2 separate regions of the Homo sapiens genome follow, and region 1 is linked to region 2. The links come from fine-mapping of genetic effects on gene expression. Tissue or cell type: prefrontal cortex. Region 2 holds a variant in brackets; the other region holds the start of a gene. All regions are shown on one strand. Distances are from middle to middle.

Region 1 (8,177 bases), 66 kb after region 2:
CCTTGTGGAGATACAGAGAAAGACAACATCTACAAGCCAAGGAGAGAGGCGTCAGGAGGAAACAGCCCTGCCCACACCCTGATCTCAGATTTCCAGCCTCCAAGACTGTGGGAGAGTAAATGTGTGTTGTTTAAGCCGCCCAGTCTGTGGGACTTTGTTATGGCAGCCCCAGCAGAAAAACACAGTAGTATTCAAATAAATGAGTTATCCTATTATGGGCTGACTTGTGCACCTCCAAAATTCATATATGAATATCATAACCTGCAGGACCTCAGAATGTGACTGTATTTGGAGATGGGGTCTTTAAAGAAGAGATTAAGATAAAATTAAGTCACTAGGGTGGGCTCTGATCCAATAGGATTGGTGTCCTTATAAGAAAGGAGATTAGGCCAAGCGTGGTGGCTCACGCCTGTAATCCCAACACTTTGGGAGGCCAAGGCAGGTGGATCACCTGAGGTCAGGAGTTCAAAACCAGCCTGACCAACATGGAGAAACCCCATCTGTACTAAAAATACAAAAGTGAGCCGGGCATGGGGGCGGGCACCTGTAATCCCAGCTACTCAGGAGGCTGAGGCAGGAGAATCGCTTGAACCCAAGAGGCGGAAGCTGCAGTGAGCCGATATTGCACCATCGCACTCCAGCCTGGGCGACAAGAGCAAAATTCCATCTCAAAAAAAAAGAGGCGATTAGGACACAGACACACACAAAGGGAAGACCCTGTGAGGACCAAGCCCAGGAGAGAGGCCTCAGGAGGAACCAGCCCTGCCCACACCCACCTTGATCTCAAACACAAAAGAGAATGCAGACAGGGCTGCATTTAGAGTGAGAGTTTTATGGAACTACTGGATACCCTGTTTCTCTCTTTGGTTTAGAGTGGAGGGAATATTGACCACAGTCACACAATGACAAGACAACACCAGTTGGCACACGAGCTCTCTCCAGCAACAAGGGATCCGAGACTCAGACTTTTGCTTTGGAACAAAAATGTGCACCTCCTGAAGGTTAGCCGCTTCCCATCCAGGACACTGTAAAACCCATCTAAAGTGCAAAGACAGACCAGCAGATTGAAATAGAACAGAAGATGAAACATTGATTGACAGGGCTTAGCTTCCACATCGCCTTGCCTTGAAGAAACAACTGGTGATCAAGTCCTGGTGCGGCGCCAGACGCCAGAGAACATCCACAATTATCCAATGCTACTGCATTCAAAGAGGGAGTTTCCACTCCAAGTGCCACTGCGGCGGACACTTTCAGCAACGGCATGGAGTGGAAAAACAGCAAGAAAACCTGTCACTGCACCACAGCCCACAAAAAGGAGACATTGTCACAAAATCAAGTCCAGTCTGGAGATTACAGTGGCTGAGAATTTTATGAATCTGTGACAACAGTTTCTTTCTACCCCTTGCCTGCCCCCCTGCACTCAAGGAATCTTCTGATCACCCCCCAAAATAACCTTAGCAGCTTCCTTCTCAGCCCTTTTCTACTCAAAGGTGGTTTTTGTTTTCTGCAAAGAGTTGAGTCTTCTCTTCTGGCACGAGGCTGACCAAGATGTATGCGAATGTCCGTCTTGAATGCTGCTATTATACAGACCCTAGCAGGCTTGGGGAAATGTGTGGCTTTCACTTTAGAGAGCTCCAAACGCGTCCCTAGAACAGAGAATCTTTTCTGCCATTCCTTGGAACAGACTCTTCCAGTACACCTCATGAAAACAGCCCTTAAGATCCCTGCCCCGACAATTTTCATCTCTAAGTCCAGAGTGGGAACAAACAGGAGAGAAGCAGCTCTGTGATTTACCAAATCTCTCCTCTGAATAAAAAAGTCATCTGTTCTGTTTGTGTGTTTTAAATTGCACTCATGGCCAGGCGTGGTGGCTCGTGCCTGTAATCCCAGCACTTTGAGAGGCCAAAGGAGGAGGACTGCTTGAGCCTAGAAGTTCAAGACCAGCCTGGGCAACATAGCAAGACCCTGTCTCTACAAAATTTAAAAAATATACATTTAAAAATAAATACATAAAATGCACTCATAGAATGATCCAGTGTGGTCTGGTACAAGAAGGAGGTGTCTTAATGATTTAATGATAGAAAATAGAACCAGCATCTTTCTTATGGGAAGAGGTTACACTCTGTTCACATATCTAGGCCTCTTAAGTCAACCAGTCTATCTGATGTCCACAAAACCCAAGGGCAGGGAGATGGGGCTCACCGGTCCTTGGCGGGGGCAGGCCTTTCCTGCCATTCTTGCCAGCCAGCCCTCTGCCTGCAGGAGGATTAACCTGGATTCTTATTTTGTTGTTGTTTTTTAGAGACAGGGTCTCACTCTGTCACCCAAGCTGGAGTGCAGTGGTGCACTCATAGCTCACTGCAGCCTGGAACTCCTGGGCTCAGGACCCTCCCACCTCAGCTTCCCTAGTAGCTGGGACTACAGGCAGGTGCCGCAATGCCCAGCTGATTTTTAAATTTTTTTCCTAGAGATGTGGTCTCCCTATGTTGCCCAGGATGGTCTCAAACTCCTGGCCTCAAGCAATCCTCCCGCCTCAGCTTCCCAAAGTGCTGGGATTACAGGCCTGAGCCACCAAGCCGGGCCATCCCTGTATCTGTACTGGAAACAGAAATTAAAACCGTGGTCTGAGTTCTAAGAACTCAAGGCAGCCTCTTCCCAGAGCTTTAGGGCCATTTCAGGAGAACAGACTTCTTCCCATCGGCCTTCCAGGCAGTGACAGTCTCAGGCAGTTCAATGCTATTCCCAAGAAACAAGCCCATTGAAAGTTTCAGGACTATATTTTACAAAAGGAAACTGGTGAAATCCCAAGGCCCCCTTCACTTGCTGTAAATCACCCCCTCCCAGCAGCTGAGGCTGGTATCTCCATTCCCTCCAGCCCCAGAGAGACCTGGGCGAGGCAGTAAGGGGGAGACTCGGGGTTTGGGGCAATCCTGCGGTCAAAGTGGGGTTCTCCCCAGTGCAGACCAATCTGTCACCCAAGCCAGTAGGAACAGGCAGGCTGAACTGAAGCAGCTTGAGCTACTCACCCGACATGGTCAGTGGCGCCGCGGGCAGTGGGCGCGGACCTGCAGACCTGCGCCCGGGAGCAGTGGGTGGACTTCCTCGCCACGAACCCGCAGAGCAGAGGCGCCGTCTCCGGGAATCCGCGTGGATTTCCAGGCCTGGGGGCGACAGCGTGGCAGTCTCGACACCCTCGGCTGCAGGCCCCGCCAGTGTCACCCCCGGCCTCCTACCCACTCCATGTCACCTGCGCCCCACGGGGCCCCTGCCTCCCCCGATGCCCCTGCGACCTCCACGCCCCGCACTTCCTCCTTGGCGCTCCAGGTCAGCCTCGTGCCCTCTGGCCAGGGGCCCCTTGACCCCCTGTCCTCCCCACAGTCACCTGCGACCCCGCTGCGTCTTAACACCCATGCGCCCAGCAACGACAACGCCCCCGGGACACCACCCGACCTCAGCGGTGTCAGCAGCTGCCCCGCCGCCCCGCGCACCTGCTTGGAGTTCTGGGCATCCTCTTCCTCCACCCCAGCTGGCGCCCCCCGGTCACCCCTCTCCACTCCCTGGACCACCCCTGCGCTCCCGGACGCCAGTATCTGCACCTCCTCCGAGCTTGGGCTGCCTCTGCCCGCGCCCCCCGGCCAGGTGCCCCCTCCCTCGTCACTCCAGTGCAGCCCCCCGGCCTACCCCTGCGCCTCTCGCCGCCCCTCCTCCCCGACCCGGCCTGCCGCCCATCCTCCCCAAGCGCCCCCGAGCCCCCTCCACGCTCTGCACCTCTCCCTTGCCCCGCGCTCCCGCAGCCTCTGCCTTGGGCCCGCGCCCCCCTCCCCAAGCCTCCCAGCCCTACGCCCGCGCCCCGTCTGTCCTCCGTACTCCGGCAGCCTCCGTCTCCCCGCGCCCCGCCGCGCCTGGACGGCCTGTATTCCCCAGCACTCGGTGCCCTGGCTCGGCGCACTCACCCCTAAGCGCTCCTGGCCTACTCCCGCGCCCCGCACCCCTCCCCTCCTTCGCGCTTGGGCAACCTCTGACCTCCAGCCCCCTGCGCCCCTCGCCCCTCCTTTGCACTCCAGTCCGGCGCCCCTCCCCCAGCCCCCAGCCTCGGCCTCTGGGTTGCGCCCCCGCCCCGCTGTACGCCACCCACCCTCGAGACCTCCTAGGCGTTCGGGCAGCCTCTGCGCCCCCCGGCCCCCCGCCGCGCCCAGGCCTCCTCCACTGCCCACGGTCCCCTGCAGCCCCCTACAGCCCCCCGCACCTCTTCCGCGCTCTGGCTGCCTCGGCCCAGAGCCGGCGCTGGAGGCCCCGAGGGCAGCGATTGGCCTCTGTCCGGAAGCCCGGCCCCGCCTCCGCCAGCCCCCGCGGGCGCGGGTCCTCTCCTCCTCCCTGCAGCCCCTGCCCGCAAGCCCGCGCGCCGCCTGGTGCCCAGCCCCGGCTGCCGGGAAGAGAGACCCGGGAACCGCCGGGGGCTGCGATCCACGCCCGCGCCCCGCCCCTCGCCCGCCGCGGCCCCTTCGGCAGTCGGCGGTTTCTAGGTTTGGACATTTAACCTTTAATCAGCCAGCCCCAAAGTAAACGTTTGCGATGACTTAAGGCCCTGGGCCCAAGGCCAGCGCGCAGCAAGAGTGGAGGCCGCTCTGGAAGCCTCCCAGAGGGAGAAGGCAGGGCTTATACGCGATCTTGTCGAATGCATGAAAAATGCACGTGCGCGTACTTACACGCATAAACTGAATGAATGAATGAGTGCACGAAAGAAAGAATAAATGAGGGTTTCAGGCTTCAGCTGTTGAATGCATAGCGAGCGAGTGGCTGTACGCACGCGGTGAGTGCATGTATGCGTGAGTGCATGTATGCGTGAATGCATGTGAGGCGTGAATGAACAAACAACTACTCATGAATGAGCAGGCCAGGAAATGAATGAACCATTGAATCAATGTTTGCGCCAAGGAGGGAATGAATGCATTCACACATGAATGCATGAGTTGAAGGCATGAACGAGCCAATGCATGTATGAATGAATTTAGAGATAGATGCGTGAATGGAGGTGTGACTGTGTGGAAAATATAGGTGAATGCATGCATGCATGCGTGAAGGCATGAATCTATGAATGAGTGAATGAATGAGTTGAATGCATGAATGATTGAGTGAACAAGTGAATTCATGCATGCATAGTGCATGAATGGGTGAAAGGTGAATTCATGCATACATGAGTGAGTGCATGAATAAGTGAACAAGTGAACTTATGCATGCATGAGTGACTGCATGAGTGAATAAACAAGCGAATTCATGCCTGCATGAGTGAGTGCATGAATGAGTGAACAAGCGAATTCATACGTGATTGAGTGCATGAATGACTTAAGAAGTGAATTCATGCATGTATAAGTGCATGTATGAGTGAGTAAACAAGTGAATTCATGCATGCATGAGTGCACGAATGAGTGAACAAGTGAGTTCATGCCTGCATGAGTGTATGAATGAGTAAATAAGCGAATTCGTACAAGCATGAGTGAGTGCATGAATGAGTGAGTGAACAAGTGAGTTCATGCCTGCATGAGTGAGTGAATTCATGCATGCAGGATTGATTGAGCACGTGAAGGCATGCATTTATACAGGAATGGATGTGTGTGTGAGTGAATGAAGAGAATACATGACAAGTGAATACGTGGCCGAATGACTGAGTGAATAAATATGTATGAGTACAGGAATGAGCTGAACAAACTAGCATGTGTGTTAATGCACACACACGAGTGAATGAGTGAAGACTGCATACACTTCAGGAATTAATGTATTATGTATGAGTGAATGAATGAATTGAATGCATGGACAAGTTAATGGATGCATGAATGAATAAGTGAAAGTGTGAATGCATGCATGCATGCATGAGTGAATTAAGTGAATGAATCAATGAATGTGTGAATGCAAGCATGTATGAGTTCATGAGTTGAATGAGTGATGACTGTGAGTGCATGCATGTATGAGTTGAATGAGTGATGACTGTGTGAGTGCATGCATGTATGAGTTGAATGAGTGATGACTGTGTGAGGGCATGCATGTATGAGTTGAATGAGTGATGACTGTGTGAGGGCATGCATGTATGAGTTGAATGAGTGATGACTGTGTGAGGGCATGCATGTATGAGTTGAATGAGTGATGATGGTGTGAGTGCATGCATGTATGAGTGCATGAGTCGAATGAGTGAACTTACTTGGAGAAGAGCCTTCACGTGTCCATCCGAAAGAGACAGCAAAGGAACCCAGATTCTTGCCGAAACTGTCAATGGCAATCAACGCAAGCTACAGTCAGGCCTTCCTGATCTAGATGAATACCTAGGATGATCGATGGTCTGTGGATACCAGGCACTGTGCTGAGGGCTGTTCCTGCATCAGCTCAGCCTTGGGGACAGGTATCGGTGGTGTTTTTAGCTCTACTTCATAGATGGGGCCAGAGCTGTACATAAACAGTGGAGGCTATCTCTGACCTCCAGCAGGCTACAGGCAAGAATTTAACTCGTGACTACTGGGGCTTTGTAAGATATCTGCAGGGCATATTAAACATCAAGAAGCCATCTTTATTTATTTTTATATGTTATTACAACATGTTTTTTTTCTGCATTCGTTTGTTTTAAACAGGTTGACATATCCAATTTTACTGATTTATTTTATTTTATTTGTGTAAATTTATGGGGTAAAGTGCAATTTTGTTACATAGATATACTGAGTTGTGGTGAAGTCTGGGTTTCCAGGGTAAGCATCACCTGAATAGTGTACATGGTACCTATTAAGTAATTTCTCATTCTCCACCATCCTCCCACTCTCTCACCCTTTTGTATCTCCAGTGTCTATTAATCCACTCTCTATGTCCATGTGGACATATTATTTAGCTCCCACTTATGAGTGAGAACACGTGGTAATTGACGTTCTTTTTCTCAGTTATTTGACTTAAGATAATGGCCTCCAGTTTCATCCATGTTGCTGCAAAAGATAGAATTTCATTCTTTTGCATGGCTGAATATGATTCCATTGTACACATAAATCACATTTTCTGTATCCAATCACCTGTCGATGAGCACCTGGGTTGACTCCGTATCTTTGCTATTGTGAATGGTGCTGTAATAAACATATGAGTGCAGGTGTGTTTTTGATATAATGACTTGTTTTCCTTTGGGTGAATACCTTGTAGTGGAATTGTTAGATCAACTGGTAGATAAAATTTTAGTTCTTTGAGAAATCTCTGTATCATTTTCCATAGGGGGTCCACTTTCAAATCCGTCCAGCCCCTGAGGCATTGGGGAAATCCTTAGGAGCCAAGAAGTGCCCCGGCGGAGCCCCCTTTGCCAGTACGACCTCAGTTTTCTATCCTCTGGATGCCAGCCCCAAAGAAGAGAAATGCCAGGATGAAGCTGGCCCCTCCAAGGAAGTCTCAGTTCTTGTGCAAGGAAGGGGAGACTCTCCCAGCTTCTATGCTTTCTCCTTGTTGGCTCCAATAGTCGCCAGATGTCTGCACAGCCTTGTGCTGCCAACTCGTTCCATGGGGCCTGTGTTGGCTTCTCATTGCTCCAGCAGGGAAACCGTGGAGTGCTGTGCTCTTGCTCTGGGTAAGGGAGGATCCTCCTACGGGAAAGGGTCTTATGAGTGTTCTAACAAGAGGGGCATTTACAAAAGACTCAGACAGCTCCTGCCTCCTGGACTGTTCAGAATGATGTGACTGTCAACCTGATCCCTTTCCCAAGGTTAGATGGAAGTTACTACTGGAGTTTTTCACCAAGGCGTTTGTGGCATTCAGGGCTGGATTCTCTGAGGTGGGCCCATCCTGTGCACTGTAGGGTGTTGAGCAGTATCCCTGGGCTCCATCTGCCGGGTGCCATTGGCACACTTTCCAGTAGTGACAATTAAAACTGACCTCAAACATTGCACAGTGTCCCCTGGTAGGAGCAGGGGCAGAATCATTCTTAGGCTGTAAGCCACTGTTTAGATAGATGATAAATAAATAGATAGATAATGGATAGATAAATAGATCAGTAGATGCATGATAGATGATACATAGGTAGATGATAGATGAGATAGGATGAATGGACAGATAGATGATAGATAGGATAGAGAGATAGATAGGTGATAAATAGATGATACATAGATATAGAGATACATAGATACATACATATATGGAGATAGATGATAAATAGATAAGAGATT
Region 2 (8,308 bases):
CTCCCCAGTCTGTCTGCACCTCATTGTTGAGCCCCAAGAACAAGCAGCCAGCACTCGTTCATTCGTCCGGGAGCAAAACCTTTGTTAAAGAAAAAACTATTCAGTGATACTAGGTTGGTAATTGCAGTTATTACTTTTGCACGAACCTCGTACTTGGGAAAGCATCACCAAAAAGATAACGAAGACATTATCCAGGCTTATCGTGTGAAGTACAGGGACCACTGCAATGGCGGTTCACAGTGCAGGAGAGGCTGGGCTCAGCTTCCAATATGAACACAGCAAGGGCAAGTGGGAATGTACAGCCACGGGGGCAGGCAGCGGGTGTACAGATGGCAAAGCACTAAAAGGAAACATCAGAGGTGAAGCGGGTCCTGGCTAAACCAACCTGGCTTGTTAAAGCCAGCCAAGGGGGTTAAACATCAACCAGGGGTGGTGGACGACGAGGAACATGATATCAAGAATGGTGGCTTCTCGCCAAACTGACTTAGCCGGTACTTTGCTGAAATCTAATTCTATAAGGAAACGCACCACCGGGCCTGGGAGGGGCTTCAGGAGCCTGGCTACGGTTTGGCCAGGCAGAGACTTTTTGTCACATCTCCTTCTCACCTAAAGGTGTCCGCGGTGAATTCTTGCATCATTTCCTTTTCATGCATTTCCCCAGTCATGTGTTGCAAACCTAACCCTGAAAATACCAAGTATGCAGCCGGTCTGTGAGCTGAGGGAATATGCAGAGACCTGCAGAGAAGCAGCATTGTCTGCAGATTTAAAGAGGAAGGAAGCAGGACTCGGATAAGGAGGGGGCCAGCCAGAGGGGTGGAGGAGAGCTGACTTACAGCTGCCCTGCAGAGGGCCTACCTTTATCTTGGGGGATGCCTTCAAGTCCGGTCTTTGACTCTTGTTCAAGATAAGGGCTGGGATTTATGACGCGCTAGTTACAGTTCAAACCTCCCCCCTGACCCCAGAGTCTGTTTCTTTACTTAAGGTTTGCACATTTGCAAGTGGCCTAACCAGTTAGACAGCCTGGATGCACTGAATGAGCGGAGTGGCAACCGCCTCCCCTACCTCCTCAAATGTCTGGTTTGAGGCCCCCTGAAACCAAGATTCCTCTCACTGTCCTTCGTGTGCCAACCATGAGACAGAACAAATGAGACCCTGGGAAGCTCCTGCCCGGGATGTCTCCGAAGCTCCAACGCTGGCTGCATGCTCTTTCTCTCCTCGCACTCTCTCACAATCTTACACGAAATGAGCATGCTGTGTGGGGGCTGGGAAGTCCACTCAAATATCCAAACTAGAAACTGGCCGAGTGCAGTGGCTCATGCTTATCATCCCAGCACTTTGGGACACCGAGGTGGAAGGATCACTCAAGCCCAGGAGTGCGAGACGAGCCTGGCCAACACAGTGGGACCCCGTCTGTACAAAAAATATAAAATCAGGCAAGCGTGGTGGTGCACACCTGTGGTCTCAGCTACTTGGAAGGCTGAGGTGGGAGGATCTCTAGAGCCTGGGACGTCAAGGCTGCAGTGAGCTGTGATTGCACCACTGTACTCCAGCCTGGGTGACAGTCTCAAAAAAAAAAAAAAAAAAGAAAAGAAAAGAAAAACTTTGCGGGAAATTTTTCATATATTGACCTATTAGAAATCCAACTTCATGTTCCGTGAATGGAAAACCCTGCACCAAAATTAACTCAAAGTGGATCAGAGACCCAAATGTAAGTGCGATCTCTATAACATGTGCAGAAGAAAACAGAGGAGAAAGTCTTTTTCGTTTTGGGTTAGGAAAATAAGACACCAAAAGCGCGACCCATTAAAAAAATAAATAAATAAATAAATAAACTTGATTGAGTTTACCAAATTTCGGCTGGGTGTGGGGTGACTCATGCCTGTAATCCCAGCACTTTGGCAGGCTGAGGCAGGCAGATCACGAGGTCAAGAGATAGAGACCAGCCTGGCCAACATGGTGAAACCCCGTCTCTACTAAAAATACAAAAATTAGCTGAGCGTGGTGGCACGTGCTTGTGCTACTCGGGAGGCTGAGGCAGGAGAATCGCTTGAACCCGGGAGGGGGAGGTTGCAGGGAGCCAAGATCGGACCACGGCACTCCAGCCTGGCGACAGAGCAAGGCTCCATCTCAAACAAACAAAACAAAACAAAACAAAAATTTCTTTTTTTTTTTTTTTTTGAGATGGAGTTTTGTTCACTCTTGTCGCCCAGGCTGGAGTACAGTGGCATGATCTCGGCTCCCTGCAACTTCCACCTCGTGGGTTCAAGCAATTCTCCTGCCTCAGCCTCCTGAGTAGCTGGGGTTACAGGCATGAGCCACCACACCCAGCTAATTTTTGTATTTTTAGTAGAGACGGGGTTTCACCATGTTGGCCAGGCTGGTCTCGAACTCCTGACCTCAGGTGATCAACCTGCCTCAGTCCCCAAAAGTGCTGGGATTACAGGCGTGAGCCACCATGTCTGGCCTAAATTTCTCTTTTCAAAGGGGAAATTTGTACTTTATTTTTAGCTGTCGAGGAGCAAGTAAAGAGCTCCTCTTGTATTAGCTGGTTCTCAGTGTTTCAGCTCAAAGTAATGGGTATGTTGGGCTGGTATATTCTGGTTGCCAGCAGTCATGTTTGGGGACGTGTATCCTGAGGTCTGACACTATAAAGCCTCCTCTACTTGTCTTTCGGTCCCTGCCAAAATGCAAAGGGTGATGTCTGACTCCCTTACTAGGGCTAGCTCTGAATAAGTGGCCTCTGCTCATTTTCATTTGGGACGAAAACATTTGGGATGGGGGACGTCTCATTTATTTCCACTTGTTCTATTTATTTATTTATTTTGAGACAGAGTCTCGCTCTGTTGCCCAGGCTGGAGTGGAGTGGGGTGATCTCAGCTCACTGCAACCTCCACCTCCCGGGTTCAAGCAATTCTCCTGCCTCACTCAGCCTCCCGAGCAGCTGGGATTACAGGCATGCGCCACCATGCCTGGCCAATATTCTGTGTGTATTTTTGGTAGAGACGGGGTTTCACCATGTTGGCCAGGCTGGTCTCAAACTCCTGACCTCAGGTGATTTGCCCACCTCAGCCCTGCAAAGTGCTGGGATTACAGGCATGAGCCACACACTTGGCTTTTTTTTTTTTTTTTTTTTTTTTTTTTTTTTTTTTTTTTTTTTGACACAGGGTCTGGCTCTGTCACCCAGGCTGGAGTACAGTGGCACAATCTTGCTCACTGCAACCTCTGCCTCCCAAGCTCTAGTGATACTCCCACCTCAGCCTCCCAAATAGCTGGGACCACAGGCGTGCACCACCACGCCCATCTAATTTTTGTATATTTTATACAGAGGAGGTTTTGTCGTGTTGCCCATGCTAGTCTCGAGCTCCTGGACTTAAGCAATCTGCCCACCTCGGCCTCTCAAATTGCTGGGATTACAGGCATGAGCCACTGTGCCTGGCCAATTTTCACCTGTTCTAAAGCAGCTGCTTAGAGGGCATGAGCTTGCAAAGACACAGCCCCTGAGCAGACTTCTCTATATGCACATAAGAAACAGCTAATGCACTGCCATCCCAATCCACAGCCAGACCTCGTATAATGGATAATCACCCTTCTCCCTGTGCCAGGATGTGGCCTCAGGGTAAAAATAATGAGTACAGCTGTGACATTTATTGAGTCCTTGACATGAGCCAGGCCTTGCTCTCCGTGCTTTGCAGATCACAGCTTCTACAATCTTCACAGCAATCGTGGCTCTTTCGCAACTGCAACTCCGTATCTTGGGGCATTTTGCCAATTTAGCCATTAGTCTATGAACAAAGCCACATTCTGATCAGGCTGAAGAATCAGGAAGGGAGAATGTGGCGGTGGGCTTTGTTCTGTATGTCACACAGCAATCTCGCTCTTTTACGGACATCACCTCACGTGGCTATGGCTCTTCTACTTCCCTACAGGGGACAAGGTGGGATAGTAGATCAAGGTGTTCTGCTCTCCCCGATCCAAGCCAAGGAGGAGCCAGGGTCTCAGGCTTGGATTCTCCCACGTTCACCCTGAGCATCTCACAACAGTAATCCCATAAAGCCACCGCTGCATGCTGTCCACAGGCTGTTCTTGATTTCGCCATTTTATAACACTAGCTCTTCTACGTTCCTTACTCTTCGAATGACCCCACACACTCACCATGCCTGGATGGTGTTGTTTAAGCAATCCAGGTTCATTTATGTTGCTTGTGAGGGGTTTCAGGACGTGCCGCCCCAAAACATGGCCCCTTGGCATTGGAGAAAACAGCAGAAGCGGGATGGTCTCTCTGACCTTCCTCTCATCTTTCTCTCCTGAAGCAGGTCAAACCACCCTCATTTGAAAGGTGCCTTAATACCCAGAGGAAAGAAACATCCTTAATTTCTTTTTAAAAAATTTTT[A/T]AATTGTTTTGTTTCCATAGGTTTTTGGGAAACAGGTGGTATTTGGTTACATGAGTCAGTTCTTTAGTGACAATTTGTGAGATTTTGGTGCACCCATCACCTGAACAGTATACACTGAACCCAATGTGTGTGGTCTTCTATCCCTCACCCCCTTCCAGCTCTTCTCCACAAGACCCCAAAGTCCATTGTGTCATTCTTACACCTTTGCATCCTCATAGCTTAGCTCTCACTTATGAGTGAGAACACACAATGTTTGGTTTTCCATTCCTGAGTTACTTCACTTAGAATAATGGTCTCCAATTCCATCCAGGTTGCTGTGAATGCCATTCATTCATTCCTTTTTATGGCTGAGTAGTATTCTATCATCTATATATATATACACACACACACACACACACACACACATATACACATATATGTGTGTGTGTATATATATATATATATATATATATAGATGATAGAATACTACTCAGCCATAAAAAGGAATGAATATATGTGTGTGTGTGTATATATATACATATATATGGGTGTGTGTGTATATATATATACATATATGTGTGTATATATATATATACACATATATGTGTGTGTGTGTATATATATATGTATCACAGTTTTTTTAATCCACTCATTGATTGATGGGCATTTGGGCTGGATCCACATTTTTGCAATTGTGAATTGTGCTGCTATAAACATGCATGTGCAAGTATCTTATCTTTTTCAAATAATAACTTCTTTTCCTCGGAGTAGGTACCCAGTAATGGGATTGCTGGATCAAATGGTAGGGAACATCCTTATTTCTGAAGATACAGGGATGCAGAAGAATCTGAACTATTAAATCAAACTAAAATCTGGCCTGAGAATGTCTCTGTACTCTCATACTTGAGTCCTTGTGGGTGAACCGTAACCTAACTTGGCAGGTAGGCGGGCGGACTGAAAAGCTAAGGTATTAGTCTGTTCCTGCGCTGCTGTAAAGAACTACCTGAGCCTGGATAATTTAGAAAGAAAGGAGGTTCAATTGGCTCATGGTTCCGCGGGCTGTATAGAGATCATGGCTGGGGAGGCCTCAGGAAACTTACAGTCATGGCAGAAGGCAAAGGGGAAGTAAGCGTGTCTTACCATGCCTGGAGCAGGACCGAGACAGAGTGGGGAGGTGTCACACACTTTTAAACAACCCGATCTCGTGAGAACTCTAAACCATTAGAAACCGCTGCCCCCATGATCCGGTCATCTCCCACCAGGCCCCACCTTCAACACTGGAGATTTGTGTGAGAACACACATCCAAACCATATCACCTAACTTAAGAGTATGCTTCTGTAACAAGCGACATCTCCACCAATCCCAGCAGCCATACTTCAACCACTCACAGGGAGCCAACTGTTCTAACCATGTTCAAATAAGGCAAACGCTGAGCTGTAACCAGTGGAATGTTTCTGTGTGTCTCTTTCATTTTCATTTTCTTTCTTTCTTTCTTTTTGATTAAACCTCTTTCTCTTCTGCAGCCCTGAGAGTTGGGGTACAGACATGCTGCATGCAACGAACCTATTATGGTTACAGTTTAGCCTGGACCAGGCAACAGAAGTGGGTCCTCAGAAGACACTGAATCTGCCATTCCTTGACCTTGGACTTCAGCCTCCAGAACTGTGAGCCACAAATGCTGGTTGGGGTAAGCCGTGTAGTCTATGGTGTTTTCTTATGGCAGCTTAAATTGACTAAGACAGCTGGGGAGCAATTTGGCAGGTAGTCTCTGAGGAATGGCTATTACCCGTGATGTCCCATCAACATCTTTGCCTGAATTGGTCCAGGTTTACGTGATTTCCATCCATCACAATGGCTCACCTTTTTAATTTTATTTTATTCATTATTTTATTTTTAATTTAATTTAATTTTATATTTTGAGGCGGAGTCTTGCTCTGTCTGTCACCTAAGCTGGAGTGCAGTGGCACAATCTCAGTTCACTGCAACCTCCGCCTCCTGGATTCAAGCGATTCTCCTGCCTCAGCCTCCCAATTAGCTGGGATTACAGGTGTGTGCTACCATGCCTGTTTTTGTATTTTTTGTAGAGATGTGGTTTCACTATATGTTGGCCAGGCTGGTCTTGAACTCCTGACCTCAGGTGATCCAGCTGCCTTGGCCTCCCAAAGTGCTGGGATTACAGGTGTGAGCCACCTGCTGTGCCTGGCCTGGGGTCCCTTTTATAAGGACACTTATCCCATTGATGAGTCTAGACCCCTAATTGTTTCCTAAAAGCACCATCTCCTAATACTATTGTCTTGGGGATTAAGTTTCAACACATGAATGTTCAAGGCACACAATGTTCAAGGCAAGCATTGAGACCATAGCAACAGCAAAATCCACAACACTGCCAAAGAATGCCCAAACAGCTGCCATTGTCTTCTACAAGACTCTACGCAACCTCCTAAAAGGCAGAATGCCTATACTGGCCTCTGCCAGCCATCAACAAGATTCCCGCTTTCCAGGCTCTCTGCCGACTCTATCCTATGAATTCTGGCTGGCCTTTGACCCTTCACTTCCCCAATGGACTCCCCTCTGAGAGAAGAAATCCATTTGAATGCAAGATCACTGACCAGTGTACAAAATGACAAATAAGATATCTCAGTGTTCTTGGACAGAGGCCAAGTCACCAAGTCACATGACCCGAACTGGGGTAGAAGACAGTAATGAAGGAAGGAAAGAGAGGTTCAGAATAGCCCATGAGCTGGATGAGCCCTCCTGAAGCTATTTCAATCTTGCTGTCAGAGGCTTTCGAATGAGAGCCACTCCATCTTGAATAGGGCCTGGGTAAAATGAGGCTGAGACCTGCTGAGCTGCATTCCCAGGAGGTGTGGCATTCTAAGTCACAGGATGAGATAGGAGGTCAGCTCAAGATACAGGACATAAAGACCTTACTGATAAAACAGCTTGCATGAAAGAACCTGGCCAGAACCCACCAAAACCAAGAGGTGACAAATGTGACCTCTGGCTGTCCTCACAGCTCATTATATGCTAATTATAAAGCACAGAATACTAAGAGACACTCCCACCAGCGCCATGACAGTTTACAAATGTCATGGGAATGTCAGGAGATTACCCTATATGGTCTAAAAGGGGAGGAACCCTCAGTTCTGGGAATTGCGCACCCCTTTCCCAGAAAACTCAAGAATAATCCAACCCCTGTTTAGCATCTAATCAAGAAATAACCATTAAAAAAGGCAACCAACAGCCCATGCTGCTGCTCTGTCTATGGAGTGGCCATGCTTTTATTCCTCTACTTTCTTGATAAACTTGCTTTCACTTTACTCTATGGATTCGCCCCGAATTCTTTCTTGCCGCAAGATCCAAGTGTAATGCCCAACCTGGTTTTTACTAACCTGTTTTTAGACTCTCCCTTTTCCTCTACTCACCTAGCCTTCTTTCCACCTGAATGGACTCTCCCTTAGCTAAGAGAGCCAGCCAGACTCCACCTTGGCTCTTTCACTGGCAGCCCCTTCCTCAAGGACTGAACTCGTGCAGGCTGACTCCCAGCACATCCAAGAATGCAGTTAACTGATAAGATACTGTGGCGAGCTACATCCGCAGTTCCCGGGAATTCGTCTGATTAGTAACGCCCAAAGCCTCGCGTCTATAATAGTCTTAAAGCCCCTGCACCTGGAACTGTTTACTTTCCTGCAACCATTTATCCTTTTAACTTTTTGCCTACTTTACTTCTGTAAAATGGTTTTCACTAGACCCCCCGCCCTCCCCTTCCTAAACCAAGATCTAAAAGTTAATCAAGCCCCTTCCTCGGGGCCGAGAGAATTTTGAGCGTTAGCCGTCTCTCGGTCGCCGGCTAATAAAGGACTCTTAAATCGTCTCAAAGTGTGGCGTTTTTCTAACTCGCTCGGGTACAACACAAGAACCCTCTCTTGGAATCTAG

Which allele goes with the higher level. Alleles are on the strand shown, and positions count from the first base shown. SD is a standard deviation of normalised expression in the study named.
As copies of T replace A in region 2, the expression in prefrontal cortex of the gene that starts at base 4,292 in region 1 goes down (small effect, 0.30 SD a copy in GTEx).

What was found. PIP is the estimated chance that this variant, and not a neighbour inherited with it, causes the effect.
Region 1: GYG2 starts here. The variant in region 2 is fine-mapped to the expression of GYG2 in prefrontal cortex (GTEx, PIP 0.94).

Annotation. Positions count from the first base shown.
Region 1 is chrX:2,825,045-2,833,221 of GRCh38, reverse strand. GYG2 (glycogenin 2) reads right to left here and starts at 4,292. Exons shown (of 11, transcript NM_001079855.2): 1 at 4,247-4,292; 2 at 3,027-3,161. The coding sequence starts at 3,033.
Region 2 is chrX:2,890,484-2,898,791 of GRCh38, reverse strand. No RefSeq gene overlaps it. Among named protein-coding and RNA genes, the nearest start is that of ARSD-AS1, 10 kb to the left of the region's middle. RefSeq lists enhancers at 139-934, 935-1,730, 6,287-6,977. The variant A/T (reference allele first, on the strand shown) is at 4,392.